Homo sapiens: one gene and its partners. The protein of the gene in region 6 purifies or fractionates together with the protein of the main gene of each other region. This does not show direct contact. Each region holds a gene or a part of one and is shown on either strand. Other genes may lie near its edges.

What was found.
Region 1: the proteins of ACKR3 (region 6) and FADS1 purify together in Homo sapiens (co-immunoprecipitation; one large-scale study listed by IntAct). This does not show direct contact.
Region 2: the proteins of ACKR3 (region 6) and ATP5PO purify together in Homo sapiens (affinity purification with mass spectrometry; 4 studies listed by BioGRID and IntAct, with this or other methods). This does not show direct contact.
Region 3: the proteins of ACKR3 (region 6) and FIRRM purify together in Homo sapiens (co-immunoprecipitation; one large-scale study listed by IntAct). This does not show direct contact.
Region 4: the proteins of ACKR3 (region 6) and BMPR2 purify together in Homo sapiens (co-immunoprecipitation; one large-scale study listed by IntAct). This does not show direct contact.
Region 5: the proteins of ACKR3 (region 6) and KIAA2013 purify together in Homo sapiens (co-immunoprecipitation; one large-scale study listed by IntAct). This does not show direct contact.
Region 7: the proteins of ACKR3 (region 6) and INTS12 purify together in Homo sapiens (co-immunoprecipitation; one large-scale study listed by IntAct). This does not show direct contact.

The regions. Positions count from the first base shown.
Region 1 is NC_000011.10:61,799,604-61,804,331, forward strand, and holds the end of FADS1 (acyl-CoA (8-3)-desaturase), read right to left. Parts: intron 4,165-4,728; coding exon 4,067-4,164; intron 3,857-4,066; coding exon 3,760-3,856; intron 3,509-3,759; coding exon 3,429-3,508; intron 3,324-3,428; coding exon 3,198-3,323; intron 2,860-3,197; coding exon 2,808-2,859; 3' UTR 24-2,807; downstream 1-23.
Region 2 is NC_000021.9:33,908,489-33,913,216, forward strand, and holds part of ATP5PO (ATP synthase peripheral stalk subunit OSCP, mitochondrial precursor), read right to left. Parts: intron 3,912-4,728; coding exon 3,801-3,911; intron 724-3,800; coding exon 594-723; intron 1-593. UniProt on the Homo sapiens protein: Subunit OSCP, of the mitochondrial membrane ATP synthase complex (F(1)F(0) ATP synthase or Complex V) that produces ATP from ADP in the presence of a proton gradient across the membrane which is generated by electron transport complexes of the respiratory chain.
Region 3 is NC_000001.11:169,797,597-169,802,324, reverse strand, and holds part of FIRRM (FIGNL1-interacting regulator of recombination and mitosis), read right to left. Parts: intron 3,469-4,728; 5' UTR 3,407-3,468; coding exon of another isoform or gene 3,367-3,406; intron 1,443-3,366; coding exon of another isoform or gene 1,420-1,442; coding exon 1,354-1,419; intron 1-1,353. UniProt on the Homo sapiens protein: Regulates PLK1 kinase activity at kinetochores and promotes faithful chromosome segregation in prometaphase by bridging kinase and phosphatase activities.
Region 4 is NC_000002.12:202,564,008-202,568,697, reverse strand, and holds the end of BMPR2 (bone morphogenetic protein receptor type-2 precursor), read right to left. Parts: 3' UTR 949-4,690; downstream 1-948. UniProt on the Homo sapiens protein: On ligand binding, forms a receptor complex consisting of two type II and two type I transmembrane serine/threonine kinases.
Region 5 is NC_000001.11:11,920,872-11,924,267, reverse strand, and holds part of KIAA2013 (uncharacterized protein KIAA2013 precursor), read left to right. Parts: intron 1-778; coding exon 779-1,632; intron 1,633-3,396.
Region 6 is NC_000002.12:236,578,907-236,583,164, reverse strand, and holds the end of ACKR3 (atypical chemokine receptor 3), read right to left. Parts: intron 4,159-4,258; exon of another isoform or gene 4,097-4,158; intron 2,726-4,096; 5' UTR 2,700-2,725; coding exon 1,611-2,699; 3' UTR 811-1,610; downstream 1-810. UniProt on the Homo sapiens protein: Atypical chemokine receptor that controls chemokine levels and localization via high-affinity chemokine binding that is uncoupled from classic ligand-driven signal transduction cascades, resulting instead in chemokine sequestration, degradation, or transcytosis.
Region 7 is NC_000004.12:105,697,921-105,702,648, forward strand, and holds part of INTS12 (integrator complex subunit 12), read right to left. Parts: intron 2,352-4,728; exon of another isoform or gene 2,095-2,351; 5' UTR 2,086-2,094; coding exon 1,930-2,085; intron 1-1,929. UniProt on the Homo sapiens protein: Component of the integrator complex, a multiprotein complex that terminates RNA polymerase II (Pol II) transcription in the promoter-proximal region of genes.

The DNA of each region.
Region 1 (4,728 bases), on a different chromosome or scaffold from region 6:
CATCATGGGTTACAAATGAAGTCTTTTGGTCAAAATTAACTTTATTTTTCAACTTCATAGGGATGTGATAACAAAATTGGCACACACAAAAAGAATACTGATATTGGGCCTGATTTAAAAAATGCCTCTGGCCAGGTTGTAAAAAAGTGAAAGTAACAAAGATAAACATAGAAGTTGGAGTTGTAAAAAAGTGAGTTGGAATTCATGCTGCCATGATCTACTTGACCAGAGGCAGCTTTTCCTCTCTAAGCCTATTTTATATCTGTCAGTGGATTTGAGATCACTCATTTTACCATTGTAACATTCCGAGCCTTTTGTCACTGTGTGTCCCTTTGTGGCCATGTAAGAGACCACACTGCTGTAGGCTGAGAAGGCCACAGTGGTTCAGGTGCTTTGAGGACTTGGTCTTGGCTCAATAGAGCCTCACTGGTGTTTGCTCAGATTGGGCAGCCTATGCCCAAAGCTACTTGGCTAAACAGGCTGGTGACACCACACCCAAAAGGTGGCAAAGAATAGGAATAGGAAGGATCAGCACCTATTTTGGAGTGAGGAAGCCAATGGAGGTACAACTCCTCAATTCTAAGTTTTTGTTGTTTTTTTTTTTTTTGAGACAGGGTCTTGTTCTATCACCCCAGGCTGGAGTGCAGTGGTGTGATCTCAGCTCGCTGCAGGCTTGACCTCCTGGGCCCAAGTGATCCTCCTGCCTGGACCTCCCAAAAGTGTTGGGATTACAGGCATGAGCCACTGCATCCAGCTTGCTTCTAATTTTCCTACCCAGGCTGTTTTAAACCTAGTTCTCCAGCTAAGTAAAATGTGCCCAAATGGAAAACATCTAAATCTTCTGCAGCCCATTCTTCCTGTGTCTTTGTGTTGACAAACCTCTAATCTTCCATGTCTTTGTGTTGACAAACCTAACCTTCCATGTCTTTTTGTTGACAAACCTCTAACCTTCCATGTCTTTGTGTTGACAAACCTCTCCATGGGTGGTGCATCTGACCCTATCCCAACATGCCTTAGGACGCTCATCTCCTTGACTGTCTGCCATCCCCTCCCAAAACTAAGTGGAGGCTCTGTCTTTTCCTCCTAGTTTGAGGTTCTCTTCTCCCAGTGTCTAAAATGATCAATATGCCTAGAGTAGATGCTGCTGAAGAGGCAAAGTAGTAATCCTGCCACCTGGAAGCAAAGGCTGTGGGTTGGAGGGGGAAGCGGGTGTGAGGGCTGATGATAAGCCCTAGGAGGCTCCTGAGTCATATTCCTATGTTTGCTCTCTGGAGAGATGGGCTAAACTGTTTATCTTTTAAAAACCAGATGATTAAAAAGTTACATTTTAGTATTATACTGATAGGAATATAGGATAATCTCTTCTAAAGCCTATTTGGTTTCCAGAAGAGTTAGATACTTGAACAAGAGTGGACAGAGTAAGATACCTAGCTACAGCAATAGAAATCACAAACTGTTCTGTGGTTTTAATCTTCCTATTTCTGATTTAGAAGTATGAAGTGATCATATTTAATCTTTCTGCTCCTGCTCAAAAATAATTCTATAACATCATTTAGGTTATAGAAAGTTTCTACTTATAGCCCTTACATTCTTTATGACCGAAATCTGTGTCTTTCCTCATGACTGATAATTATCTCCCAATTTGGTCACTTCTGCTAATTGCTATTTTATTAAACTTGAAATTTTAGGTTGGGAAGCAAAGGGAAACCACTGGGCATCCCCTTTGTTTCTAGGGAGAAAAGACTAACTTGTCCCATCTGCTCACTTGCTTATGGAGCTAAAAGACCCCCAGTCCTAGAAGTGTTCTGTTCCTGAGGAGTGGTTAAAGAGGTGAAAAGAAGAGGTGAATTAAAAGATGAAAGAGCTTTTTAAATAGCCAGCAACTCTCTCTACCATCTGTTTTGGTAAGAGCTAGCACCTCTTGTTCTCTTTAGACCCTGGAGGGAATAAACCAAAATCAGTGGTTCCAGGATCCTTCAGAGCCAAAAGACCCCAATACCACAGTCTTGACCTTTGCCCTGCCTGCTTCTGAAACTGGAGAATGGCATCTCCCAGCAGCCTAAGGCAGACATAGGTCATACCTATCCCTGGGCAGCGAGCTGAGCTCCCACAGACTGAGTTGTGCTGGATCTCAGAATTCTAAGCATTAATGTTTCCTTGCTGTTATAATTCTTGCTCATCAGGTTCAACTGCCTTATCCCTCTGAGGTTTGCAAATGAGGATGGAGAAGCCACTGAGAAATGGACCAGTGAGCTGAGCTCACCTTTTATATGAGTGGATTTTTTTTTTTTTTTTGAAATGGAGTCTTGCTCTGTCGCCCAGGCTGGAGTACAATGGCGTGATCTCAGCTCACTGCAACCTCCACCTCCCCGGTTCAAGCGATTCTCCTGCCTCAGCCTCCTGGGTAGCTGGGATTACAGGCGCGTGCCACCACGCCCGGCATGAGTGGAATTTTAGTGTTAAATCTCTTCCTGACTCTGGGTTCAGTAGGTCCCTCCTCTTCTGTTACCCTCCTGGTTCTCTCTGTTCACCAACTACCTGCATGTGCCAAACTAGAAAAAGGAAATAATTTACACCCCTGCCCCAACAGCTCCTTCCCTCCTAGGGACTTCTGTGTCCACCCCCCACTTTGGGTCTTAGAACTGTGGCTAGAAGATAAAAGGGAGGAGTTTGAGTCAGAGGCTTTATGTCCCCAAACCCAACCCCCTCTGAGTATTAAACTATAGTGGCATTGTCCCTCAAGCTCCCCTCTGCCTTGGCTCCAGAGTCTTCCTCCTCTTCTTCCAGACTGGGCAGGGTGGCTGTTGTTATTGGTGAAGATAGGCATCTAGCCAGAGCTGCCCTGACTCCTTTAGTGAGCTGCAGGGACAAAATGGGGGCAGACAGTGAGGGAGACAAGCAGAGTTGAACCCACCGGAGATGGAGCAGTGAGGTTAAGGCCTTCTTCCATCTGGAGGTTTTCCTCCCCTCTACTTTAGAGAAAGCTAGCTTGGGCCATGGTACTGAGGGGAACCCCAATGAGGGCAAAGGCCTGACCTGGCCACAGGTCCAATAAAGAATCCTGCCTTTGCCATGGTGAACTCCATCCCACACGACTGGGAACACCTTCTGTTCACTCCCCACCCTACATGTCATCATTTCCATTGCCCTGCCCTCTTCCCTCCCTACTAGCCATCTTCCTGGTCTCAGATACTCACTGGATGATGTCGGCGAAGGCTGACAGCAGGGGCTTGGACTGGTACTCTATGCCATGCTTGGCACACAAGGACTGCACCAGGGGAGCCACTTTGTGGTAATTGTGTCGAGGCATCGTGGGAAAAAGACTTTAGGGAGAACGGGGGAGTCAGTGGTTCCTGCTTCTCTGCTCCCACCTGTACCCAACACTTACACCCTCCCCAGGACCCTGCTTCCCCAGGCTCCCTACTCACTGGTGCTCAATCTGGAAGTTGAGGTGTCCACTGAACCAGTCATTGAAGGCAGACTTGTGGACATTGCATGTGGCCTGGAGCTGGCGGAAAAGGTCAGGGGAGAGCATGTTGAATATCAGATGGAAAGGCCAGCCCAGCATTCTCCAGGTAAAGCTGGCTGAGGAAGGGACATGAGACTGTCTTGGTCACTCCCTTCACATGGTTGCAGAACAAGAGCCTCAGGCTAATGAGAAAATGCTGTTTGGGGGACTTTTTGTTTTTGCTGTTTTCACCTACGCATCCTTTTCAATAGTTGTGTTATGCTCCAGTCTTCTGAGTGACTGTCCCTTACCTGGGTGGAAACCCAGTCCATGTTCCGGTCATGATCAATGTGCATGGGAATATGGTTCATCTGTGTCACCCACACAAACCAGTTGCTTTCCAGGAACCTGTTAGATGTATTACACAGACAAAAACAGTACACACAGAGCCCAGAATTCTGATTCCCCCCTCAGATAACTGCTCCAGCCTGTCTACTTTCCCAAGCCAACTCCTGAAACACCCACTGTTACCCAAAGCCCCAGCACGGCCCCTAGACCAGACTGGTCACTCCCCAACATTTCCTTCACCAGTCCCTATCCGCCCCCACCGAATACTACCTGACTATGAAGAAAAGGCCCAGGAAGGCTTTCAGCCCCAATAGTGGCACATAAGTGAGGAAGAAGCGGACGTAGAAGGTAATCATCCAGGCCAAGTCCTATAGTGAGAAAAGCAGCGAGCATAACAGTCACGAACAACTCTTCCTCTTCCTCTCAGCAGCTCTTTGTTTGCATGGTGCAGCCATTCTCCTGGTTATCCAGACTCACTCATCTTCAGCTTCTCAGGGGTCCAATCCTGCAGTATCTAGTGCCACTGCTCCTTTCTTCCATTCCCATTGGCACCCCCCAGCCCTTCTTGCATGTCCCCTTCAAAAGTACCAAGGCCTACAAGGTCTCTTTGCCTCTAGCTCTTCCTAGCCAATCTAAATCCTTCAGCATGCCGCCAAATGAATCTGCCAGGACCATGGCTCAGTCCATGCCAGTGCCCTGATCAAATCTCTCATCACTGAACCAAGCACCATACTCTTCCCCTGACACTAGTCCTCCACAATATGTCTGGTGGTCAAACTTACCCCTCATTTCCAGCTTCTCTGCTCAGAGTTCATCCCCCCTGCTCCACCTCTGCCTGTCAGAAACCCTGCCCAGCCTCAAGGCCAGCTAGAAAAGTGACTTCACAAAGCCAGGTGCAGTCAGGCCCCTTTTGGAGTCCCCAGAACCTATTG
Region 2 (4,728 bases), on a different chromosome or scaffold from region 6:
CTTGAGCCCAGGAGTTCAAGACCAGGCTGGGCAACATGGAGAAACCCCATCTCTACAAAAAATACAAAAAATTAGCTGGGTGTGGTGGCATGCACCTGTATTCCCAGCTACTAGGGAGGCTGAGGTGGGAGGATCACCTGAGTCTGGGAGGTTGAGGCTGCAGTGAGCTGAGATCGTGCCACTGCACTCCAGCCTGAGTGACAGAGTAAGACTCTGTCTCAAAAAGAGAAAAGCAGTCCAAATGTACCCAAGAATGCAAATGTATCCAAGGATCAAGGTATAGCCACAGGCCACGAACCATTTTCTTGGTAGGTATCACACTGGCCGCCTCCACAGTTGAAACTACTGACTATACAATTAGACATGCTTAGGTCCTAGTATCCTTTAGACGATGCTCCTCACACTTCAATGTGCAAACGATTCACTTAGGGAGCTGGTTAAGATACAGACTCTGATTCAGCAGGTTGCTGTGAGGCCTGAGATTCTTCACTGCCAACAGGCTCCCAGGTGATGCTGATGCCGCCCACAGTCCATGGACCACATTTCCAGTCATAGTTTCAAGACACCTCAAATGAAAAAGTTCTAATACTCACTGATCAGATTGGTAGTGAGGGGAGAGAACCTCTCTTTTGCTGTGATGTCATTTAGGCTTTTCACTTTAATGGAACGCTTCACATAGGGATTCAAAACAGAAGCAGCCACTTTGGGTTCCTTCAGGATTTGCTGAAAGCATCAAAAAATAATTTCTTAAATTTTTTAGAGCACAAATGAAGGATGTGCCATGCACACACTTTCTTTCTTTCTTTTTTGGAGACAACGTCTTGCTCCGTCGCTCAGGCTGGAGTGCAGTGGCGCAATCTTGGCTCACACAACCTCCACATCCCGGGTTCAAGCGATTATCCTGCCTCAGCCTCCCGAATAGCTGCACCACCATGTCCCGCTAATTTTTGTATTTTTAGTAGAAACGGGGTTTCGCCATGTTGACCAGGCTGGTCTTAAACTCCTGACCTCGAGTGATCCACCCACCTCGGCCTCCCAAAGTGCTGCGATTACAGGCATGAGCCACTGTGCCCGGCCATACAAACACTTTCTTATGAATTAAATATTTTATGAATTAAATTAGCACTGCCGAAGAACATATGAAAAAAAGATTATAATCAAACAATTTTCTGACTGCCTTTCAGAATACACTGTGCACTGCACCAGGATTTTATATAGAATGATGTTCCTCAAAAAAATTTAAAAATACTGTACGAACTTTCTTAAATTTGTTTTTGCTTTTCAAGAAAGATTATAAAACACTAAACAGCCAAACCTTCATTAGACTGCATACTTTAATATATTTAAGAGAGGAGTCGTCTGGTTTTCTAGCAGTGCTATTTCTAGAGTGCAGACCTCACAACTGTGCTCTGACCACAGAGGCCTCCGCACCGCTCCCTTGGAGGGGCCCTGCCTCTTACAGAGTCCAGGGAACCCAGCAGATTCTGTGAGGCCTCTGGTGCTGCCAGAGCGGCCCCAAAGAGTCTGGGAGACAGAGTGGACAATAAAACAGGAGCACAACCATCATGGGAAACAACGTTCTTCTCATTTTGTTGTATCACAGTGTCTGAATTCAGTGACCAAGTGCAGCTTCCAGCATGTTGCTCCAGAGTTCCAACAAACGAACAGCAGTTTCCAGTTGAGCACCTTCAGTTAACACACCTCTCTATGCTTTTCAATTACGCTCCTAGCACCTCCTCCCAGGCTCCTGGCCAGAATCCTGCCTCTGATCCAGGATACTGGTCAGATACTATCATCCAATGCTAACATTTCCACTTGAGTGACCCCACAGAAATGACATTTTTCCATAAAAAATGCAGGAATATACAGATTTAAAGCATTCTGGAATTTGGGTTACCTAGTTTTTCATGTTTATCTGTGTCTCCTGCATCATCCAGAGGACAGTGCGTATCCTTGTATCATCCTTCCCTCTTAGTGCCAAAACCCTGCTAATATTCAGTGTCTTAAGGTAATTGCCTCCCTTTTTCTCCATGTCTCGACTGACTTCCAGGCTTTAGACAAACTCTATTCTAATATCCACAATCCAAGTAATTCTCTCCATTGTAAACATGATTGTTTCCGTTTAAAATGGGCATAACTGACAAGTAGCAGACAATAACCATCACCTCCAAAAATGCCTGTGTGAGACCCCGTCTGTTCCTGCATGCCCTTCCCCCAAATGTCTCCAACAACAGGGCTGGGCTCCTGGGCTCTGAGAGAATCATAAGAGTTTATCACACCAGCTAAGACCTTAAGCATTATCTGCAGAGATAAATGGATCAAGGAAGGAATATGGAGCTAAAATTATTCTGCCTGTTAAGACGGAAGTTCCAATAGAAGCTCAAGTGAAAAATGAATAAAACATAAACAGTACAGAACAGTAATACTTATAGACTATACATACGATGATTAATATAGAACGTAAGTATTATTACTCTATACAACTGGCCTATGAATTGTTTTTTCTAAACAATAAAAACTTGCAGATATGTGAATTAAAGAATGAAGAATCTTAAAATGAAGAAAAAACCAAACTTCCTCTGAAGAGGCTATATACCAGACTGCGTCTCCCTCACCTTTTTTAATGCAGACCTTACTGCCAGTGGTGGCGCTAGAAAATCGAAGGAAGCAACAGAATGTGTAGAAACTTGTTAACTAGAAAATTCGGTGAAAACGAAAGCAGACATTCTCCTATTCAGTTACAATGTAGGCTTCTGGTAATACGGTTTATTTATTCTGCTTTTCATGTTTAAAAAAAAAAGTAAAAAACATCTTGCAGCAGCCTCACAGTCTTTGCCTGTCAGTCCTCTACTACTACTGGGAAGCCCATGCCCCTTTACTAACTCTGCTGCCCAGCGCGCCCCACCCTGTTATTCTTCCCTCACATTTTGGGAACAAAATAATTAAGAGGTTTACCAAAACAATGAAAAGGTCTACATGGTTACTTCTGGGGTTCTGGCAATTGCAAAGGCATCTCTACCAAATGAAAACAACCTGTAAGACATATCTGAGCCTCCTCTGATTCTACAAGCATAGAATATGGCAATTAAAACCTGAGGAAAAGGTTTCATGAAAACAAATTCTCAGTAAAACCAAATCACAATATATTCTAAACACCTAGCCCATAAGCATAGGTTTTTTTTTTTTTTTTTTTTTTTTGAGACGGAGTCTCGTACCGTCCGGGGCTGGAGTGCAATGGCGCGATCTCGGCTCACTGCAACCTCGGCTTCCCAGGTTCAAGCAATTCTGCCTCAGCCTCCGGAGTAGCTGGGATTACAGGTGTTCACTACCACGTCCCGCTAATTTTTTGTATTTTTTAGTAGAGATGGGGTTTCACTATGTCAGCTAGGCTGGTCTTGAACTCATGACCTCCTGATCTGCCTGCCTCAGCCTCCCAAAGTACTGGGATTACAGGCGTGAGCACTGTGCCCAGTTATAAGCATAGATTTTTAAAGGTAGCTTTTAAATTCTCTTCTGAAATAGCAATTTTCCTAAATTACCATCCATTTTAATCTTATATTTCTACCTTTTCTTAGCCCCTAATCTTGGTTCCTAATATTAATATCCTTATATGTATCTGTTTGTTCTTTTTATATGTCTTATAATAAAAACCCAATATTATTACTAAAAATGTGTTTACAGACAATGGCTTTTTCCCAGTTTTTTCTTGTAGGATACACCTCATTAGGAATGCACAAACAACCAAAGGAAAAAATATACAAACAGGAACTTCATATGTAATGAATAGGAAAGCTACTTACTGCTACTCTCAACAACTCCTTTTCTACTTGCTCCAGCTTATTCTGTTTTGATGCAGCAGAATAAAGAGCTGTGGCATAGCGACCTTCAATACCGTATACCTGAACAGGAGGCTTTAAAAAAAAGGTGAAATAGGAGAGGAAAGAAAAAGGAAAATCAGTTAATAGTATACTCTCAAGAGCAGAATTTAAAATTTATATTTTAAAAAATGTATCTCTTTAACACAAAACAGTTTAAATATGTCATTCAAGAGCTGTCCTAAATGGCAATTTGCAAATAAATTAGCGATGTTTCCTTGGTCAGGTCACTCAATCTTTGAGCCTCCAATTCCTCATCTGTAAAATGAGGGGCTTAGTAGGCATTGTCTAAAGTCCCTTCCAGGTTTACATACCTTTATCAATTACTTGTACTTTAATTTTGAGATAAGCTTATGTTTCCTTTGAACTCAGTAACTATTTAGTTTCAAGTATGGGAGGTTGTGAACACTGATAGACAGTTTCGAGTATGTTAGAGCTAGGAAAACAGGTGTTTATGAAACACACAAGTATACTTTTATACATTTCATACTAACACTACACATTTTCCCTTACATAGCCTCCCTATCGATGTTCAGTGTAACAGAGCCCTTTGGCAGTTTACAAAAAAACCTGATGCTTGAATTATTTTTCACAATAAACTATAGACTTTTTTTCTACCATCAATGTATGACTACATGTTCTTAGTGGTGCTGTATGGTTGTAGTGGGAAAGCTCAGGCTTGGATGAGAAAGATTTAGTTCCAGTCCAGCTCTAGGACTAAGCTGAGTAACCTCAGGTAAATTTTCCCAGGGCCTCAGTTTCCCCTTTTGTAAAATGGGAAGACCAGTTACTCCTTAACACTGTTATGAAGTTTTAAGGTCTCACATGAAGGACGAAATGATTTTGATCATTT
Region 3 (4,728 bases), on a different chromosome or scaffold from region 6:
TGCAAAAAATAAAAGTATTACTTTCGCACAATAAATTTGACTGTCTTGAAGAATCCACATTCATACAGTCATTTACAAGGGTATTTTCTGGAAGGAATTTGCACTGAATCGCCTATTCACTACTCACTTATTTTCTAACCAGTTTCCTTTTGACCCAATTCAAGCTAACCTTCCTGAATTAAGGGTATAGTAAATGACCTTACAAACAAGCTTTTTGTCTGTGAAAAGTTAGCCACCCTAGATCTTAATACTTGGATCTTTCTAACAATTTAAATGACCTAAACATTATAAGAATAGCAACACAGTCAACAATACAATGTAGCTAAAGAAAATACTGTTTCCCATAGGCCTGTTAACACTCAACATCCATTTTCATCTATGTAACAGTTGAATCTTTTTCTGGTGGTCAAGAACAAATTCTAAGAAATATTTCAGATAGAGAATCATCAAGTGACTATGAGTACAAGAAATTTGAAAGATTACGATTCAAAGCTAAAGTTAGAAACCCATTTCAATAAGAGATTAATTACAAATAATGTTTCATTTTGGCACCAAAGTATCTTTAGTTCCCTCCATTTAAAACAAAAAAGGTATGCTTGTGCTTTTCAGAGAAAACATATACCATATATATCTAAAATGTAATAATGTATTCTGTGAATTTAATGTTTTCTCTTAGTTACTTGATTTTGCCAATATTCCAGCTTTTCTTTTTTTTTTTTTTTTTTTTGAATTAAGGGTTTCACTCTGTCACCCAGGCTGGAGTACAGTGGCTTTAAAATACAAGAGCATTTAAAATTGACTACAAATAATTTAAATTCAGTTAGTAAAGGAACCACACAATCTGAAAATATAAGTTCTTTTTTTTTTTTTTTTTTTTTTGAGACGGAGCATCGCTCTTATTGCCCAGGCTGGAGTGCAATGGCACGATCTTGACTCAATGCAACCTCCGCCTCCCAGGCTCAAGCAATTCTCCTGTCTCAGTCTCCCAAGTAGCTGGGATTACAGGCACCTGCCACCATGTCCAGCTAATTTTTTGTACTTTTAGTAGAGACGAGGTTTCATCATGTTGACCATGGGTGGTCTCGAACTCCTGACCTCAGATGATCTGCCCACCTCAGCCTCTCAGAGAGCTGGGATTACAGGCATGAGCCACCGTGCCCAGCCTGTAACAGTTTTTAACTGCCTAATGATCACACTAACACCATTATAGTCTCACATGAGATCTACTTACTCCTTATTTTTATTTTGAATATATTTGATATATTAGAAAAAGAGAGCCATAATTAATAATAAATCATCTAAGACTGAGGCTAGATTCCTTATAACATGTATTTTCAGGTAATAGTATTATACCTTTGGTAACACTTGTGAAAAGAAAGTCTGTTCCAATGTCAGGTGGTTCATATGAGGTAAAAACATTTCTACAATAATTTTCAAAATTTCTGTAAAGCAAATAACAAATTTTATAAAAATATTGTCATGTCAGTCAACAAAGGCCACTGCCCTTTATTAAATGCAAGAATACTACCAATCTAAAGCTTGATACACTTTCAAAATACCACATTCTATACAGAGAAACTATTAAGTAGTAGCCAAAAAAAAAAAAAAAGAGAGAAAGGAAACGACCTACATATCCAACAATTGTGGACCAGTTAAATAGGTGTGTGTACATCTATTGAATAGGATCTGCCATCATTAAAATGACATTTTAAAACATGAAAAATGTTCACAATGTAGTTAAACAAAAAGTTTCCAAAATATAACACCAATTTTAATGTAGATAAACATGTACGAAGAATGATGGATAGGCTGGCAGGAATATACGGAAATGAGATGAGACTGTTCTCATCAAAATCTTAACCATTTCAGATTAGATGTTTTGTAATCTTTTCTGTTTTTCTATATGTTTCATATTTTCCACAATGAACATGAATCACTTCTATACTCAAGATAAAAAAATAATTTACTTAAAAAAAATTATGCCACGCATGGTGGCTCACGCCTGTAATCCCAACACTTTGGGTGGCTGAGGCGGGAGGACTGTCTGAGCCCAGGAGTTAAAGACCACCTGGGAAACATGACAAGACCTCATGTCTACCAAAAAATAAATATATAAATAGAAAATTAGCCACGCATGGTAGCACGCACCTGCGGTCTCAGCTACTTGGAAGGCTGAGGTGAGAGGATTGCTTGAGCGTGGGAGATGGAGGCTGCAGTGAGCTAGCTATGTTCGCACCACTACACTCCAGTTTTGGTGACAAAGCAAGACCCTGTCCCCCAAAACAAACAAACAAAAACACAGGCCAAGCATCATGGCTCAGACCTGTAATCACAGCACTTTAGAAGATGGAGGCAGGAGAATAGCTTGAACCCAGGAGTTCAGGCTGCAGTGAGCTATGATCGCACTACTGCTCTCCAGCCTGGGCAATAGAGTGAGATCTTGTCTTGAAAACAAAACAAAACAAACTCTGGGGCCAGGCTCAGCGGCTCACGCCTGTAATCCCAGCACTTATGGAGGCCAAGGCAGGAGGATCACTTGAGCTCAGGAGTTTTGAGACCAGCCTGGCCAACATGGTGAAACCCCATCTCTACTAAAAATACAAAAATTAGCCAGGCGTGGTGAAGCATGCCTGTAATCCCAGCTACTTGGGAGACTGAGGCAGGAGAATCACCTGAACCTGGAAGGTGGAGGTTGCAGTGAGCAAAGATCACGCCACTGCACTCCAACCTGGGTGACAAAACGAGACTCCAACAAAAACAAAGGAAAAAAAAATTAGGTCCCATTACACAACGTAGATTCAAATTATAAATGAATATTCCACAACCAAGTGAACTCTAAATAGAAAAGCTAACTCAAAATATGAGTAAACTGAGCAGTCTAAACTCTCTTCTGACTAGAAGAATGAATCTCATCAAGTAAGACTGATGAAGACATGAAAATGAGAAAGTCAACTTCCTCCAAATGGTAAATTTGTTATCACCTAGACAATCAGCTTTTGGCAATTTAGAAAGCATTTTCTAAATGACACTAAACATGTTAGAGGCTGATAGCTATTCAGTAGACTGCATATCATGTTTTATATAGGTCTAATCGTAACAACTAACGTTTAATATTTACAATTTGTTTATACATACATCATCAACAAAACACTTTGGTATTTATCCAAAATGTAATTTAAAACTTTTAAGTGCTGGAATTTGAATGAATTTGTTCATTTCAAGTAACTGAAGGTTATAAAGGCTGTAACATAGAGAACAGTTACATTTCAAGGGAATACAAAACTGTAAGAACACATCTACCGAGGTATGTGGGGACTCGGACCTTAACATCAAAGTACATCATACAGTTAAAACAATTTTACTTACGAATATGCTCAATCCAACTGTCAGAATGTTGAGACAATGAGTAGGATAATTAAGGAAGATACTAGTATCATAGTAATAGGGTATTCATTACTCAGAACAAACCTAAAAAAAAAATAAAACCCTTTTGAAATTTAAGCAATGACTCATAAGAGATTGGAATTGGACTCAAATTACTGGCTTAATTTTGCTTTTAAAAACTTAAGATTTATTAGGTAAACAGTATTGTGAAAACACATTAAAGAAATATTTTGAAAATTGCCCAGGGACAAACTTGCCTTTTCAAACTATGCATAGTCATGAAATATTTTTGACAGATGAGAAACAATGCTACAATAATCCACAGGTTTATGATTTATTTATTTATTTTTTTTTAGAGAGAGGGTCTCGCTCGGGGCCAAGTGGGGTGGCTCACACCTGTAATCCCAGCACTTTGGGAGACCTAGATGGGCGAACAAGAGGTCAGGAGTTGAAGACCAGCCTGGCCAGTATGGTGAGAACCCGTCTCTACTTAAAATACAAAATAATTAGCTGGGCATGGTGGCGCACACCTGTAATCCCAGCTGCTCAGGAGGCTGAGGCAGGAGAATCACTTGAAACTGGGAGGCAGAGGTTGCAGTGAGCCAAGATCGCGCCATTGCACTCCAGCATAGGCGAGACTCCGTCTCAAAAAAAAAAAAAAAGAGAGACGGTCTTGCTGTCACCCAGGATGGAGTGCGGTGACATGATCACACCTCACTGCAGCCTCAAGCTCCTGGGCTAAAGTGATCCTCCCATACCAGCCTCTCAAGGAGCTGGGATTAGAGATGCACACCACCATGCCCAGTTTGTACTTCCGATTTCTATTACAAGAAATTTTTCTTTCCTCAACATTTCTATTGTACTTAATTTATACCTAAGTCACTCATCACCTTCTATCTTTTTTCATATTACTTACATACCTATCTTACCAACTTTATTTGACTGAAATTCTTCTGCACATAGCAGCTTACAAATACACGACAATAAATTCTTCATATACACCATCAAGAATAATTGTTAGAATAATTGTTAGAAATGTTTTACTGTAACAACACCATAAGAATCATCAAAGAATGTTAATAAGAAAAATGAATAACCCGGCCGGGCACGGTGGCTCACGCCTGTAGTCCCAGCACTTTGGGAGGCTGAGGCAGGCGGATCACGAGGTCAGGAGTTCGAGACCAGCCTGGCCAACATGGTGAAACCATCTCTACTAAAGATACAAAAAATTAGCCGGGCATGGTGGCACGTGCCTGTAATCTCAGCTACTCGGGAGGCTGAGGAAGGAGAATCACTTGAACCTGGCTGCTGTGAGCTGAGATCGCACCACTGCACTCCAGCCTG
Region 4 (4,690 bases), about 34 Mb from region 6:
AACCTCTGCTTCCCGGATTCAAGCGATTCTCCTTCTGCCTCAGCCTCCCGAGTAGCTGGGATTACAGGCATGCACCACCACACCCAGCTAATTTTGTATTTTTAGTAGAGACGGGGTTTCTCCATGTTGGTCAAGCTGGTCTCGAACTCCTGACCTCACGTTATCCACCTGCCTCGGCCTCCCAAAGTGCTGGGATTATAGGCGTGAGCCACCACGCCCGGCCAGTTTTATTTTTATTTTTGAGTTTCTCTTGCCACAAGGAGAGCTTGAAAATTGCAGTTCAAAGCAAAACGTAAAATGCGTTACAATCTCACTTGCCAGTTCTGTGACTGGGCAGAGTATTTAATTTCTCTTTCAGTTTCTTCATTTATAAAAGGGGGATAGTAATACATATTATGTAGGATTGTTGTGAGAATTATCAACAATGTATGTAAAATAACTAACACAGTGCCTGGCATATAATACATGGTCAGAAAATAGCAACTATTATACTAAATTTAGTTTTTTTTTTTTTTGAGACGTAGTCTCGCTCTGTCGCCCAGGCTGGAGTGCAGTGGCGCGATCTCGGCTCACTGCAAGCTCCGCCTCCCGGGTTCACGCCATTCTCCTGCCTCAGCCTCCCGAGTAGCTGGGACTACAGGCGCCCGCCACCGCGCCCGGCTAATTTTTTGTATTTTTAGTAGAGACGGGGTTTCACCGTGCTAGCCAGGATGGTCTCGATCTCCTGACCTCGTGATCCACCCACCTCGGCCTCCCAAAGTGCTGGGATTACAGGCGTGAGCCACCACGCCCGGCCTATTTATTTTTTTTTATTTTTTATTTTTTGATGTATCATACTGAGTTATGAAAGTCATATTAGATAGAACATTTACTATTCTAGTGCAAACTCCCTAATTATCATACTAACAATTTCTGGTGACCTCTTAAAATAAAAAAACACAATTACTATTGTCATTAATATGATCTTTAATAAACGGAATAACGCACCATTTTACAGCAAGCCTTTTTAAACCTAAAGAACTGCCTTAAAATCTCCTTCTCCAATGTCTCTGTATCAATACAATCTTTTTATTTAGGTTTATATATATCAAAGCATTTACTTACACTTATTCATAGAAAACTCTTTAGTGGCTTAATGTCAGCTTTCATAGTGGCATCCATAGATAATACAAAAGAAAAGTGATTTGCTTTATTTTATACTCACACTGATCCATCAAACACAACTTATACAGCATAGCAAGGCTTCAGACAGCTTATACAAAAGCAAAATAACTGAAATTATTCATAAAGTCATATATGATAGTCTATCTGTAATGTAAGAGCAAAACACACCAACAAAAGATACCCGTTAACAAGAAAGAGGGTTCTGAGGAAGTGCGAGTATTTTCTAGCCTTTCTTTTTCCGGAAAAGCATCCTCAGAAGTGAATACTCCGTAGCTTATGTTTCTCCTGTCCATTCAGAAAAAGCATGACAGCTACGCATCTCCATGTTTCAGCTACTACAACACCCTAAGAGTTAGTGTATTTTACAATTATCCATGTATCTTTATTTGAAAAATTATCAGCAAAAAACTGAGGATGATTCCAGCTTACATAAACACTGATACAATATAATCTCTATGGAAATGAAATAACAAGGCATACAAAAATTGCTTAAATAAATAAATGTGGCCAGAAAAAGAAAAGCCACAGAAGTCAAGCAATTCAGTGTTAAACTGGGACCTATCTTTGAATTGCATCTTTTAGTAATTTTTTCTTACTGTTAAGCTTCTTTAAAAATATGTTTCCTTTACATACTTACGAGGATTGGTAACAAGGTGAAGAGCCTGAGACAAGAGACTGGTTACAGATAACTTCCTAGGATTTTAAGTATATAGCACATCAATTTAGAGCTTGAACTTGTCTGATTCAAAGAAAAATTCTGTTTGACAATGTGATAAATACAGGTTATTTTCTCAAAACCATCCAAGCTATTACTAAAGTTATAAAATATTTAGTTCACTTTTAGAAGGCTTTATAACGTTAAATTGTCTCTTGAGAAAATCCTATCTGACAGGAACTACTTTACCAAGTTCCCTTATTAAAAAACAAACAAAATGAAACAATTTGTCCCATATCATGTATGGTCATTTGACCAAAGAACAGAAATGTAAGTCGTTTTAAGTCAGTGCTTCAACTCTAAAGGCCTAAATTTGTTGCAACATGTAGCCAATTAGTTGAGTCATTCCCTCTGTTCAGTAATTACAGAACTGGGCAACTTTTTATAATTAATGAAATCTGATATTATATCTATGTGAAAAAGTCAAATAAGATGAAACATTAAATGAACTGTGCAACAAACACTTTAAATATTCAACTGGATCTAATTGCTTACTTGCTAACAATTGAACTTTTTCAGTGTACAAAGGGATGAAAGGGGCCCTGAGTTTTTAAGTAACATGATGTCTGTAGAATGCATCTAAAACATGAAGATGTTTCTGAAATCTAAAGGTATAAATAAAATGGATAAAACCCACATGTTGCCTTTTAAAACTGAAAACCAAATCAAGTTGTAGTTTCAAATACAGTAATTTGCTTAAAAATTCAATCATAAACTGGACACCCTAATGATGTGATTTTGTTCTGAAGATTCCTTCTCTCTTACCCAGATTTTAAAATGGGTTTCAAGTTGTTTTAAAAATGTGTATGTTCACAATGTTTAATAGTAACACTACAAACATCACAGTAATAACAGAATTGGACTTTTAAAGATACGATAGATTTATTTTGAGCCTAGTTTTAATATACAGCATAAATTCTTCTGAAGTACTTTCAAATGTATCTGCCATGAGATAAATTTCTAGGTTTTTCTCTATATGCACACTCAACTTAAATCAGTCACCTAAAAGTTAAATGAAAGTTGTATAGTCCAGTCTATGTTGCAAAATAATAAGTATTTCAAAAGTGGTCTACAAAAATGTCCATAGATAATACCTGATTAATGTAGGGTTTGCTTTTGAAAGTTAATCTTGCATTTAGTGTTTAATATTTCATACAAAAAATATGTAAAAGGTTGTGGCTCAATCATAAAACTAAGCTTGCTGCAATATGTTAAAAAATTTTAATGGCAAAATGATATACAATTCTGTGTGCATGGCTTTTTAGTTATAACTAATGAGAATATAAAATCATAAAATTCCACAATAGAAAATGTTAGATAACACAAAAATTAAGTGCCGATTTGCTGGTGGTCTGATGGTTGAATCCACTTTCAAATAGAAACATCTTAACTCTCGATTCTATCAAACTATCAAACTATTACTTAACTGGAGTAATGAATTTGAATATAAAAGAAAATATAATTCTATATTCTTAAATATAAAGTCATTAAAATAGGACTGAGGAGAAGAGCTTAAGCAATTTTGTCTGAAGAATTGAGACTTAAGTGTTCATTGAGAGGCCTGAAGCATACTGAAGACTAAGAATATTGGGGATGATGACCAACTGCTCTTTTTTGTCCTACTGGGTAAAAGAAAAAAATTTAAAATCAAAGAGGAGGGAGACAGAATAGATATGAAGAAAACTTTCCTGACACAGACTACAAATCAGATAACTGAGGTTTGGAGTAAGTCAGACATAAACTATGAGGTGATTTTTTTTGTTTTTTTTTGAGATGGAGTCTCACTCTGTAGCCCAGGCTGGAGTGCATTGGCGCGATCTCGGCTCACTGCAACAACCTCCGCCTCCCGGGTGCAAACGATTCTCCTGTCTCTGCCTCCCGAGTAGCTGGGACTACAGGCGCGTGCCACCATGCCTGGCTAATTATTTGTATTTTTAGTAGAGATGAGGTTTCATCGTGTTAGCCAGGATGATCTCAGTCCCCTGACCTCGTGATCCACCGTCTCGGCCTCCCAAAGTGCTGGGATTACAGGCGTGAGCCACCGCGCCCAGCCTAACTATGAGGTGATTTAAGGAAAGTAATGGGAAGGTGCACTTAAATGCCCTGTGATTCCCTCTTTTCTTTATGTTAATCTGGAAACTTGTAGAAAAGCCTTCTCTTGATAACAAATTTTATGTAACTAGCTCAAACAGTGATTTGCCAGATTTACTTAATCAAGGAATATATTTAGGAGGGAATCATGCAAGATAGTTTTGGGTAAAGTTTGCACAGTTCATAATCTAAAAGTTAAAATGCAACCTTATATGCTGGAGAGTAAACTGCCAGTAACAGTACATTTAGAAACATTGCATTCTGAAAAAGTCTCCTGGGGTTTATGTGGGAGTGTTACAATTTCCAGAATGACTGGTCTAGATAATCAACATGTGTGTCCGGATTTTAACTTTAAGAAGTTAGATGGGAAGATAAAGCAATATATGAAGCAATCTGTGAATAGTTACATAATAACCTGCACATAACAGGTAGTAAGTTCAACATAACTTTATAAAATGTTGTATGGAAATATAATCTCAAATTCTAGGAGTTAATGATCTCCAATAAAATATTCATGTCCATAAATATGAAAAAAGGAAAAGCTCATTGAAATATTTTTCCATTTTAAATGACTTTCAGGAGGCACTTACAAAGACTAGAAATTTCAGTGTAACAGCTACAGCCTACCAATTCCACTTGGCTGTAGAAGTCAAATTTGAAAATAATTTAAATAAAAATACTTGCCAATGTTTTGTGATAATTCCCACTGAAGCCCACACT
Region 5 (3,396 bases), on a different chromosome or scaffold from region 6:
ATACAAAACTTAACCTGACCTCATGATCCGTCCACCTTGGCCTCCCAAAGTGCTGGGATTACAGGCGTGAGCCACCGCGCCCGGCGAGAGGATGGTCATCTTCACAGAAACAAAGTTGTGTGTGTGTATGTTTTTAAATCTTAGGGCTGTTGAATCCATCAGTAGCAAAGGGGCCCAGCACGTGTTTATTCAGCAAGTGTCTATTGAATGCTTCTGCCAGGGCTGTTTTAGGCATGGGTGGTGGCCTGCACCTGTAGTCCCAGCTACTCAAAGGCTGAGACGGGAGAATCACTTGAACCCGGGAGGCGGAGGCTGTAGTAACCTGAGATCGTTCCACTGCACTCAAGCCTGGGCAACACAGTGAGACTCTGTCTCAATAAACAAATAAATACATACATACATAAAGCTACAAGACTGGAGAGAGAAAGGACAGAGAGGAGAAGTGGCCTGAGACTGGCCTCAGCACTGGTGACTGATCTGGCGCAGGATGTCTGACCATAGGGTTGGTGCCAAGTCCTGGCTAAGTCTGTGTTCCTCTGGGCTCTGGCACCAGGCCCCGCTGCTTTTTAACAGGATTCTAGATTTCAGGCCCACAGGCTCAAGTTGGTCGTGTAAACAAGACAGGCTGACTTTCTTCTATACTTTAGGGAGATGGGCACCACTGTCTTTATCATTAAGGCACAACACCTCACTCTTCTGCTGCCCTTGGTCTTTATTTCGTATGCTCTGCCTCCCAGCTGTCCTTCCCCCTTAACATGCCGCTTTCATGGTGTTGCAGGAGTGGAAATGAAGAAGATCACTGACACCCACACGCCGTCTGGCCTCACCGTGAACCTGACGCTCTATTACATGCTCTCCTGCTCGCCAGCCCCACTGCTCAGCCCCTCCCTGAGCCACAGGGAGCGAGACCAGATGGAGTCGACGCTCAACTATGAAGATCACTGCTTCAGCGGGCACGCCACCATGCACGCCGAGAACCTGTGGCCGGGGCGGCTGTCCTCCGTCCAGCAGATCCTGCAGCTCTCTGACCTGTGGAGGCTGACCCTCCAGAAGCGTGGCTGCAAGGGGCTGGTGAAGGTGGGTGCCCCAGGCATCCTGCAGGGGATGGTGCTCAGCTTTGGGGGGCTGCAGTTCACAGAGAACCACCTCCAGTTCCAGGCCGACCCCGACGTGCTGCACAACAGCTATGCATTGCATGGCATCCGCTACAAGAACGACCATATCAACCTGGCCGTGCTGGCGGATGCCGAGGGCAAGCCCTACCTACACGTGTCCGTGGAGTCCCGTGGCCAGCCTGTCAAGATCTATGCCTGCAAGGCAGGCTGCCTGGACGAGCCAGTGGAGCTGACCTCGGCGCCCACGGGCCACACCTTCTCGGTCATGGTGACACAGCCCATCACGCCACTGCTCTACATCTCCACCGACCTCACACACCTGCAGGACCTGCGGCACACGCTGCACCTCAAGGCCATCCTGGCCCATGATGAGCACATGGCCCAGCAGGACCCCGGGCTGCCCTTCCTCTTCTGGTTCAGCGTGGCCTCCCTAATCACCCTCTTCCACCTCTTCCTCTTCAAGCTCATCTACAACGAGTACTGTGGGCCTGGAGCCAAGCCCCTCTTCAGGAGTAAGGTAGGAAGCCGCCATCTGGTCGAAACCCGAGGCCTTGGCCTTGCTCTCAGCCCTGTGTCTCGGAAGGGGCTAGCCTGGCGAGGGGGGGTGAGGCCTGGGCAGGAATGGGTGTCCTGATGCCCTCAGCCCTTGACACCAGAGAGCGCGCACAAGTGTTTTGAGAGGAGACGACGAGGAAGGGAAAGCTGGAAATCCAGGTGTGAATTGATGGTCTTCTGGCTTTCCAGGGCAGCCCTCCCCTCCTCCCGCATCATAAATCTCAGCATTTAAAAATAACTGCAAGCTGGGTGTGGTGGCTTGTGCCTGTAGTCCCAGCTACTTGGGAGGCTGAGATGGGAGAATCCCTTGAGCCCAGGAGTTTGAGGCTGCAGTGAACTATGATTGTGTCATTGCACTCTAGCTGGGGCAACAGAGCAAGACCCTGTCTCAAAAAAGCAAAAAACAAAAAAGCAAATAAAAGTAAAAAAAAAAAAAAAAAAAAAATTAGAGGCAGGGCCTGGTGGCTCATGCCTATAATCTCAACACTTTGGGAGGCCGAGGTGGGAGGATCCTTCGAGCCCAGTAGTTTGAGACCAGCCTGGGCAGGATAACGAGGACTTGTCTCTACAAAAAATTTAAAAATCAGCCAGGCGTGATGGTGCACGCTTGTAGTCCCAGCTACTTAGGAGGCTGAGGTGGGAGGATCACTTGAGCCCAGGAGTTTGAGACTGCAGTGAGCTGTGATTACACCATTGCACTCCATCCCAGGTGACAGAGTGAGACCCTGTCTAAAAATAATAATAATGAGGCTGGGTGCAGTGGCTCATGCCTATAATCCCAGTACTTTGGGAGGCTGAGGCGGGCAGATCACCTGAGGTCAGGAGTTCAAGACCAGCCTGGCCAACACGGTGAAACCCCATCTGTACTAAAAATACAAAAATTAGCTGGGCATGGTGGTGCATGCCTGTAATTCCAGCTACTCGGGAGGCTGAGGCAGGAGAATTGCTTGAACCCGGGAGACGGAGGTTGCAGTGACCCGAGATCATGCCAGTGCACTCCAGCCTGGGTGACAGAGTGAGACTCTGTCTCAAAAAAATAAAAAATAAATAATAAATAATAATAATAATAAAATAAAAATAACTGCAACAAGCCCCTAGATTGACTTGAAGCCTCTGTCTGAACTGCTGGCGGGATCCCCAGCTTCCCCCCATGTGCCTGTTCATGGCATGCAGAGGTCAGCCCCTTGCTCCAGGCCTCGGACCAGAGTGGCCATCTCGTTAGCATAGGACACAGGACAGAAGCATTGCCCTCAAGTTTCCTGAGACATGTTTGCCCCTGGAAGCGGTGATTTTGGCCATCATTGCTGCAAGACTGTCATCGGGGCAGCATCTTAGCATCAGCATTGCTGTCGCGGGGTGAGGCTGCCTACTGTGCCCTGCCGCCCGGCCTTCTGTGCTTCCTCAGGAGAAAGACCAGCAGGGATTCCAGGGGGAGGCCTTTGTTAGCAGTTGTAGAAGAAAATGTTTCCCAAAGAGCTGAGCTGTTTCCCTTTCTCTTCTCTCCTCCTGTATCCCGTCTCCTCCCCTCTACTCTTCCTCCCCTCCCCTCCCTTCTCTTCTTTTCTCCTTTATCTTCTCTTTTTAAACTGTAGTGACAGTAGAGAGGTATATTAGGCTCTGCGTCTGTGCCCCCAAGTAGTCAGAGAGCCCAGATCCCACCCTGGAGAAATGGGAAGTGTCCCATCACATCCACAGGGATGCCTGCGGCTTCTAGTTTCTGGCCCAA
Region 6 (4,258 bases):
CCCAAGCCCACAGGTCAGACGAGCATCTGGGTCTGCCTTTGGGTTGGCAAACAGCTCTCTGTGCAGAGAGGTCTTGGCAGAGGTGGAGGTGGTGAGGGCAGTGCTGGGAGCCCAGCCCCTCTCTGAGCCCCTGCCCAGCTGACTCGTCTGTTGAAGTCTCCGCCATTCTTGTGGCTCCAGGTAGAGTTAGAGAGGGCACAGCAGGAACTGGCCATTCTGAGAGCACTCTTTCCAACCACTAGTAAGGACATGCGCAAGCTGGGGATTCGCTCATTGTGTGGCCTCAAGGGGGTAGCTGATTGGCATGGTTTAAATGAAAACTCTCAATAGGAAATATTGCCCCTGGAGGTGTTTACCTTAGCAGATGAGATTTAAGGGGCTGTGCCACTGGCCCTGGAAGCACACAGGTGGTACAGATGAGGACACCAGTCCTGCACCCTGAAACTCTCCTGTCTGGACGGAGAGTTCAGACAGGTTCAGAACAGAGATGGCTCTGGCCAGCAGGAAGTAGAAGCAAGTGGCACCTTCTCTGTGCCAGCCTTCTCTCCTAGCTGGACCCTAGCAATCATCCCCCACACCAAAAACACTATTGCCTGAAAATTTTTTTAAAAACCATGCAGTGTGCTCAAATGATTTTTTCTTTTTATATCATTTCAAACAAGTTAACCTGGTAGCTTTTGCTTTACAGCAGCACTCTTTTTCTGAGCATGTTCATGCAGGTGGCCTGTGTGTGCCATATATATCCATGAATTATTATCATGTGTGCTATTCAAGTGCCAAAACACACTTTGAAAACTGAGACTTGATGCATTTTTAGGAAACAAAAATCTTTATTAAAAAAAAATAACTTACAAATTGAGAGAACTCTCTGAAATGCAACTGTTCGTTGTGTGTGCAGATTTGCAGTCCAGAACAGTTTTTTGTTTATTTTAAAATGTAACTTTACAATACTATTAATGTCACAAACTGCATTACAAAGCAGTTTTCGTTCCATATCCCGTGCCGGTACAAAACACCACACAGATATAAAACTATGGTAAATAAAACATTTCAGCCAAGACTGGCATATATTTATATATTTATATATATTTATATATATATAATTTCAAAACAGCTAACAATTAGTGTCATCCTTAGTCAAAACTGAAGTCACGCTAACCTTAAAACTACAACACTCTGAATATATGTCAGCACTATGCCTCCCAAACAATATTTAAAATATATTTAACTTTCAAATACATTTATAAGGTACACCAATAGTGAGAAAATAAAGTCTTAAAATTTAAATACAAATCACCATATAAAAAATTCAGGAAACACAGAAAATCCTATCTTACAGAAGTCCAGGCAAGCCTGTCCTCAGCTGGCTCTGACGCACAGCACTGCTGTGCGACACAGCTCTGCCTGTTGCAAAACTGTCAGCACGCACAGCCAAATGACAGCTGCGTCATCAAGAGAAAGAGAGAATGGATGCAGGGGGCACGTGCTCCCCTCTTCACTCTACTCAAGCATCAAGACCCGAAGCTACTTTGCTTTGCTCTAGAAAACCATAGGGCCCATCACCCTGTTCAAAAACAAGTAAACCCGTCCCAGAGCCTCTCCAGGGCAGATCATTTGGTGCTCTGCTCCAAGGCAGAGTACTCCGTCTCTGAGACTCTGGAGGCATCGATGAGCTTGGTGAGCCCTGTTTTGGCCGAGTACTTGAAGATGAAGGCCTTCATCAGCTCGTACCTGTAGTTGCGATTGATGAAGCTGTAGAGGACAGGGTTGACGCAGCAGTGCACCAGCGACAGGCACTGTGTGACATGCAGGGCCGTGAAGAGGGCGTGCTCCAGCCGGCAGGTGAAAGGGATGTAGTGCAGGATGGAGAAGATGTCCAGCAGCACCGCCACGTGGTAGGGCAGCCAGCAGACAAGGAAGACCACCACGTAGGAGAAGATGATCTTCCGGCTGCTGTGCTTCTCCTGGTCACTGGACGCCGAGATGGCTCTGGCCAGCAGGAAGTAGAAGACAGCGATAATGGAGAAGGGAACGGCAAAGCCCAAGACAACGGAGACCAGCTCCATGCCGATCAGCCACTCCTTGATGCTGTGCTCGGGGTAGAAGGACCGGCAGTAGGTCTCATTGTTGGACGCAGACGTGACGGTCTTCAGGTAGTAGGTGTCAGGCAGAGACACGCAGAAGGCCAGCAGCCACACCAGGATGCAGACGACACGGCGTACCATCTTCTTCCTGCTGCTGGGGGTGTTGGTGAAGTAGGTGATGGAGAGGTAGCGGTCCACGCTCATGCACGTGAGGAAGAAAATGCTGCCGAAGAGGTTGATGGAGAAGATGAGGTGTGTGACTTTGCACGTGAGCTCGCCCATGGGCCACTGGTTGTGCTGCACGAGACTGACCACCCAGACTGGGATGGTGAGGACAACCCACAGGTCGGCAATGGCCAGGTTCAAGATGTAGCAGTGCGTGTCATAGCCTGTGGTCTTGGCCTGGATATTCACCCAGACCACCACGGAGTTGGCAATCATGCCGATGACGAAGATGAAAATGTAAATGAAGGAGAGCGTGTAGAGCAGGACGCTTTTGTTGGGCATGTTGGGACACATCACCGTGTCCACCACGATGCAGTCGCTGCTGTTGCATGGCCAGCTGATGTCCGAGAAGTTCCCTGGCTCTGAGTAGTCGAAGAGATGCAGATCCATCGTTCTGAGGCGGGCAATCAAATGACCTATGAGAAAACCAAGCAAACAAAAAAGATGGAAGAGGAAAGTCACTTCATTAGGAAAAACTCAAGTTTCAGGCAAAAATGCTTTTCCAAGGCCCTGATAGGCTCAGCTGTTTGGGTTTAGCTCTGTAATGTCTTTGCAAAGAAGGGAGAAAAAAAATTCATAATAAAACTCTCCAAAACAAAATAAATCATACTCTGAATCTAAATCCATGTGGTGCTCCAAGACAGAAACTGTGTTTGCTTTCTCCATCTTTTCATGGCTGTGTTCTCAAGACACCGCCAGCATGGCTGTGCCCAGTGTGTGAAATCAACACAGTACAGGGGCCAAAGAAACGTCAGGCAGCTGAGCCCCGGCCACCGCGATGCTGATGGCCTGCTCACTCTCAGCAGGGGACAGTGGAGCCATTTTATCTAGGTCCCCAAAGAATGGCAGGGTTGTCCTCTCCTGGCACTGCTGTATTACAAGTGTCCTGCTTTGGTGTCTTAATGAAAGCATTTCAAATCCTCCTCCAAATTTGCATTTATAATGTGACTCAGCACTTTTTACTTGTCTGCTAAATTCACATATAAACCTGGGTCTCAGGCGGCCCCAGTGTGCAGTCATAAAGCCTCTGGAAACACAGTGAGCCTACGCAGGGTGCCCCACAGCTTAACTGCGCCCCAAACCTGAAGACTCTGGGTTGGCCGTGTGGTTTTCAACGAAGGGCAACCAACCAGCTGTCTCAAGCTTTGGGTCAGCACCTGTTTTTCCATTCCTTTATTTGTTCAACTGCTTCAACAGCAAGGTGTGCCAAGACTCAAAACACAAAAATCACCACCTGCTGCATTTCAGGAGGGCTGACCATTTTCCCAACTGTTTTCCCTGCTGACCTGAGGTGAGACCAACACTCCATCACCATTTCACTCCCAGCCAGAATTCAGCCACGGGGTACCATTGTTATCTGGCACTGATTTCTTCAGATAGACTGACAGGGGCTGTCTTCTACTGTCAGTCCGCCCATGGGAAGGCCCTGAAATCCCTCCAGGCCACAGTCCTGGGTCAGCAATTAGCCCTGCCTGAACCCCACTGTAAAATGAAAACCTCAGCCCAAGGATGCACTGTTGACAGTGACATAGTCAGGTGGTTGCCCTTCCCCCTCACCTGTCCCAGGTAATGACTGGCCTAGAGTCAAGACATTATTTACCGAGTTCATTTAAAGTGGATTCCAGGTTACATATGAGAATTTCCTGGAGGATCAAGGACAAGGGTCAGGGGATCAGGGTCCGGGTGGCTACGCTAGCGGTATGCAAAGCCACAGCTGGGAAGCCGCCCACTCCGAGATCAGACATTCCTGGGTTGGGATTCTGGCTCCTCTATTCATTAGCATTTACCTTGAGAGTTAATCTGTCTGCATCTACCTCCCCAGGACAGCAGCACCTATCTCACAGATACCCTAAGAAGAAAGAAGAAAGGGCCTAATTGAGAGCTTGGCCCTAGCCGATGCTCAATAAAACGTCACCCCCTTCTCCCTCCCTGGCCAGGAAGAAAGAACC
Region 7 (4,728 bases), on a different chromosome or scaffold from region 6:
GCACCTGTAGTCTTAGCTACTCAAGAGGCTGAAGTGGGAGGATTGCTTGAACCTGGGAGGGAGAGAGCGCAGTGAGCCAAGATTGTGCCACTGCACTCCAGCCTGGGTAACACAGTGAGACCCTGTCTCAACAAAAAACAACAGAAAAACAAAAACGTGTATTGTGTGTAACTAAAAAATTGAAGACAAAGTCATGCAGTATTAAACTATTACCTAATTCAGCAAAAAAGTTGTTCTAGTTGTTGACGGATGAGTTAAGTTTTAACTCCATTATTTCACATTTGCCTTCCTCATTAATGTAAATGAATATCAACCAATATTCATGTTAGAATACACTTGGAGACCTGGTAATGTTAGTAAGCATTACCTCCAGGTGATTCTTATCCATGCTAAAGTTTGAGAAACACTGGCATAAATCACTCTTCTTACACAAATCTAGTGATGAAAATATTCAGCTGAAGGCTAAAATTAAATGGACCTGGGCTTTAAAAACCTATAACAAAGTAGTTTCTGAAAACTGATCAAGAGAAATGAACTCTAGCTAGAAACCTAAGGGCAGCGTGCTTTTTAATCACAACAAATTTTTCATGTTCTTTAAGAGATAAACTTCCATTTTAGAACCCCATTAAAACAATTTTTTTTCTTTAGTAATAATAGGTTTCCCTATCTGGACAATACCAACACCCACAGTGGAATGAATTTGGTAGTATGTTTTGTAGAGCCATATTGATTTGGTCGATCTGAACTCACTGAACCTACTGCAATGAGAATGGATAGAAGAAATGAAGTCACAATGGTTCTGCTATTCAAAATACAATAAAAAGGCTTCGGAGTACTAGACCTAGTATTGAAAGAAGGCTGGGGACAAAATGCCAGTGTTTACTTGGGCTCTGAGCCTGGGACTAGATCCTCTCTTGAGCTTCAGATTCTGGTTAGACTTGAGCTAGTCATGTTCTATTTTCTCCTTCTCAGTTTGGGATCTAAGTCCACAGACCTGAGTGATTTGGAGTTTGAGGGTCAGAGCTTAGAAGGATTTGATAGAATGTCTTAGTAGGTATTAGGGAATATAATAAGAGTTGTCATTCAGTGACAGCCTATTATGTACCAGGCAGGTACTACACTAGGTAACTCATTTACTGGATCTCCTTCAATTTTTACAACTCTGCAAAGTAGTTCTTATTATCCCCATTTTACCAATAAACAGACTAAGTGAAATGAAGTTTCTATGTACCTCAGTTTCCTTATGTAAAATGAAGAAAACAGTTATCTATCTTAAAGGATCATTATCATAATTAAAATTAATTATTCACATAAACTACTCAGAAAAGTGCCTGGGACATCAAGATACGTTGTCTATTATCATCACACAATTATAAGATTTAAGTGGGATTTAAAACAGGTGTGTTTGGTATCAAAACATATATTCTTTTCACATAAAGCTGCCATTGGCTGCTTTGTTATTATCAAGACAGGAGCTACACAGTTCTCAGAGTTCATCCATACCTCCTTTTCTCTTAAATTATCCTACCCATATTCAATTTATTTTGTTGAAAGATCTGTCCTTTTACTTGATTTTTTTTAATCCTTAAAATATTAGGCAATAATTAGAAGTAAGTTGTGGTTACATTCAGCAGCTTAAAAAAAATTCTGATCACAAAGAATCGGAAATTAAAGTAAGTCGTAAACAAGTGAATTCATATACACATAAAGTAGTAGAACAGAATATCCTGCACCCCCAGCTGATTTTTCTATGTGGTGTAACAGTTCTCTGAAAACTTGAAGGGAAAAAAGAAAATAAAGAATATAATTTCTTCATGCTACAAGGAAAGATTATTTCGGCAGAGATTGTTTTGAGATGGTCTATATGTTATCAATGTAGTACTACAGGCCTTACAAAACTCTCTCCAAGCTTTTTATTCATTCAAGTACCTTTTGAGATGGACGGTAACTGGAATCAATGCCCCGAGCCAAAGATTCATCAAGCAGTGCTTTTAGCTTTTCAGCAGAATCTTTACTCTTTGAATGCAAGAAACCTAGTGCTTTCAAAAAAATGGGATCAAGTTCCAAGTTCACAGTAGCAGCCATTGCAAACGCCTGAAGGAAAAAAAGAGAAAGTAATCTAGAAGACAATGCACAATTATCTATGTTAAAGTTTTACTTTTCTGTTTTTTAATTTGTAATAGATAATACTGTACACATGATATAAAATTTAAAATCACCAAAAAGTTATTACAAATAAAAGTAAATTTCCTTCTTATTCCTGACAGGCATTATCTAGTTCCTTCCCCCTGAAACAACTAGCAGTATCAGTTTTCTGTGTATCCATATCGATGGTAACGTTTTAAATCCAGGTAGGCCTCTCCCTGCCACAGAACTCCTTCCTAACTGTGTTTTAAAAGATACACTTCGCAGTTTCAGTACATAGAACTTGATGGGTTTACGTCAAGTTTACTCTGTATCAAAATTTCTTCTCTCAAACCTTATTTCCATAACACAAGGGAAGACTTAGTGTGCAGGTGTTTGTGTGTGTAAGGGCTATCGTAAGAGGGCAATGGTGAAAAGGTATATTAAGTGATTAGCTATCATGGTCACTGCTGCCACTTTTACCTCAACTCTTTTTTTTTTTTTTTCTAAACTCACCTCTTCAGTTCTCTGCCCCAACCCTAAATGTCTCAGAAAACATATTAATGATAACCTTATTTGATCACATTTAGATTGTGGTATCTCATGCATTAACCTATTTTTAAAAGTAAGGTCTCTGAGGGATAATATCATATCTACTTAAAACACACACACACACACACACACACACACACACACACACAGAGCCTATGATGCTTTGTGTCCTAAAGAGCTTAAAAAATAGCCAAGATGGATAAAGATATACATCAAAGGCTTATGAAATTCCACAATACTAAAAAGTTTTGTTTTTAGTTAATACCAATGCTATCATGTGGTTCTGCTTCTGGTTGTCACTTTTTCAAAGACCTCTCCAGGCAAGAAATTATCAAAATAAAAATGTATTCTTTGTGTTCAATCCTTTGATCAATATACTATGGCTTGAAATCTTCTATCCTTGAGGTTAATATTGTATTAATGCAGCACACTTGCATTGCTATAGTTAGGGAACTGTCAGCAATTCCACAGTTATCTCCCATTTTCAGGGGTTTATAACACCATTAAAACTTGCTGTAGGTTGAATCCTAGCATATGAAAGCACATCTGAAAATGGATTTTGTTGTCCCCTCCCCTCCAGCTTCACTCCTCATCCTTCTCCACATCTGACAAGAAACACACATACACATCCCTAGGCTTTTTTTTTTTTTTTTTTAAGTTCCCAGGAAGGTATTAGTTATCTACCTGATAACTACAAAATTACTGTCGAATTCTGTACTGTACTAAAATATCATCTGAATCACCCATGGAAAGGAATCCAAAGGCCAGTACTATAATGAAAAAGTAACCTTATCTCAAACTGTTGTATTTCTAAGAATTTAACAAAATTGAAAAGCAGCCTCTGTCACTTCTTAAAATTATATTATTATATACATCACCTCTACATAATGATAGGTACAGAAAAATTATTTTAAAATTTACTCATGGGGCTGGTCACCATGTACGTTCTGAGGAAAAAATAGCTCCTTAATAAAATTTCCAAGATTAAAAGGGTAAACCTGCCATTCCCCCAGCATATACAAGGGTAACAGCCTAATCTCTTTTTTTTCTTTAAATTCCACTCCTGTGACAGTTTACTAATCTTTCTACTGATTTTATTTCATATAGGTAAAGGAAATAGCAGTTTACTTATCCAGATTGTTATAAAACAATTTATTTTATTGGGTGCTGACCAAAGGGTTGACACCTAAAAGAACCCTTGTAATATATTAGAAAAACCATTTCTTGAAATTTCTATGCTGAAAAATGAAAGCCAAGTATTTATTGCTATGTATTTCTACAATCACAGGTAAGAGGTTTACATTACAGATTAGGTGACAAGAGTCAGCACCTAGATTACAAGACTGCGGAAGTCATCAACACCAACATTCCAGTTGGAACCTTGGAGTCAGTTCTTTTTATGCAATCTTGCCATTATAAAACTTAACAGGCTTTGTACCCCTCCCCTAAATTACTAACATGGCCCTTTGACCCAGTGGTCCCCATGGTGGAATACAGAGAAAAAAATATTAACTTTTTAATTTATTTCTATTTCTTTTTTTTTTTTTTTTTTTTTTTGAGACAGAGTCTCGCTCTGTCGCCCAGGCTGGAGTGCAGTGGCATGATCTCGGCTCATGGCAAGCTCCGCCTCACGGGTTCATGCCATTCTCCTGCCTCAGCCTCCCGAGTAGCTGGGACTACAGGCGCCCGCCACCACACCCGGCTAATTTTTTGTATTTTTTAGTACAGACGGGGTTTCATCATGTTAGCCAGGATGGTCTCGATCTCCTGACCTTGTGATCCACCCGCCTCGGCCTCCCAAAGTGCTGGGATTACAGGCGTGAGCCACCGCGCCCAGCCAATTTATTTCTATTTCTATTTATTTTTTAAAAATCTATTCATATACAGAGTGATAATAGTGTGTTATATAATTGATCTTTAACCTCAAGGAGCTTTATCTTCAGCCAGTGAAATCTGAAACTTGCCACAACTATTGTCCTCTTTTATTACAATCAATTCTCCTTTCTGACTACAATCTTCCATTACTCTATCTCTTCCACTGCCTTAATCCAG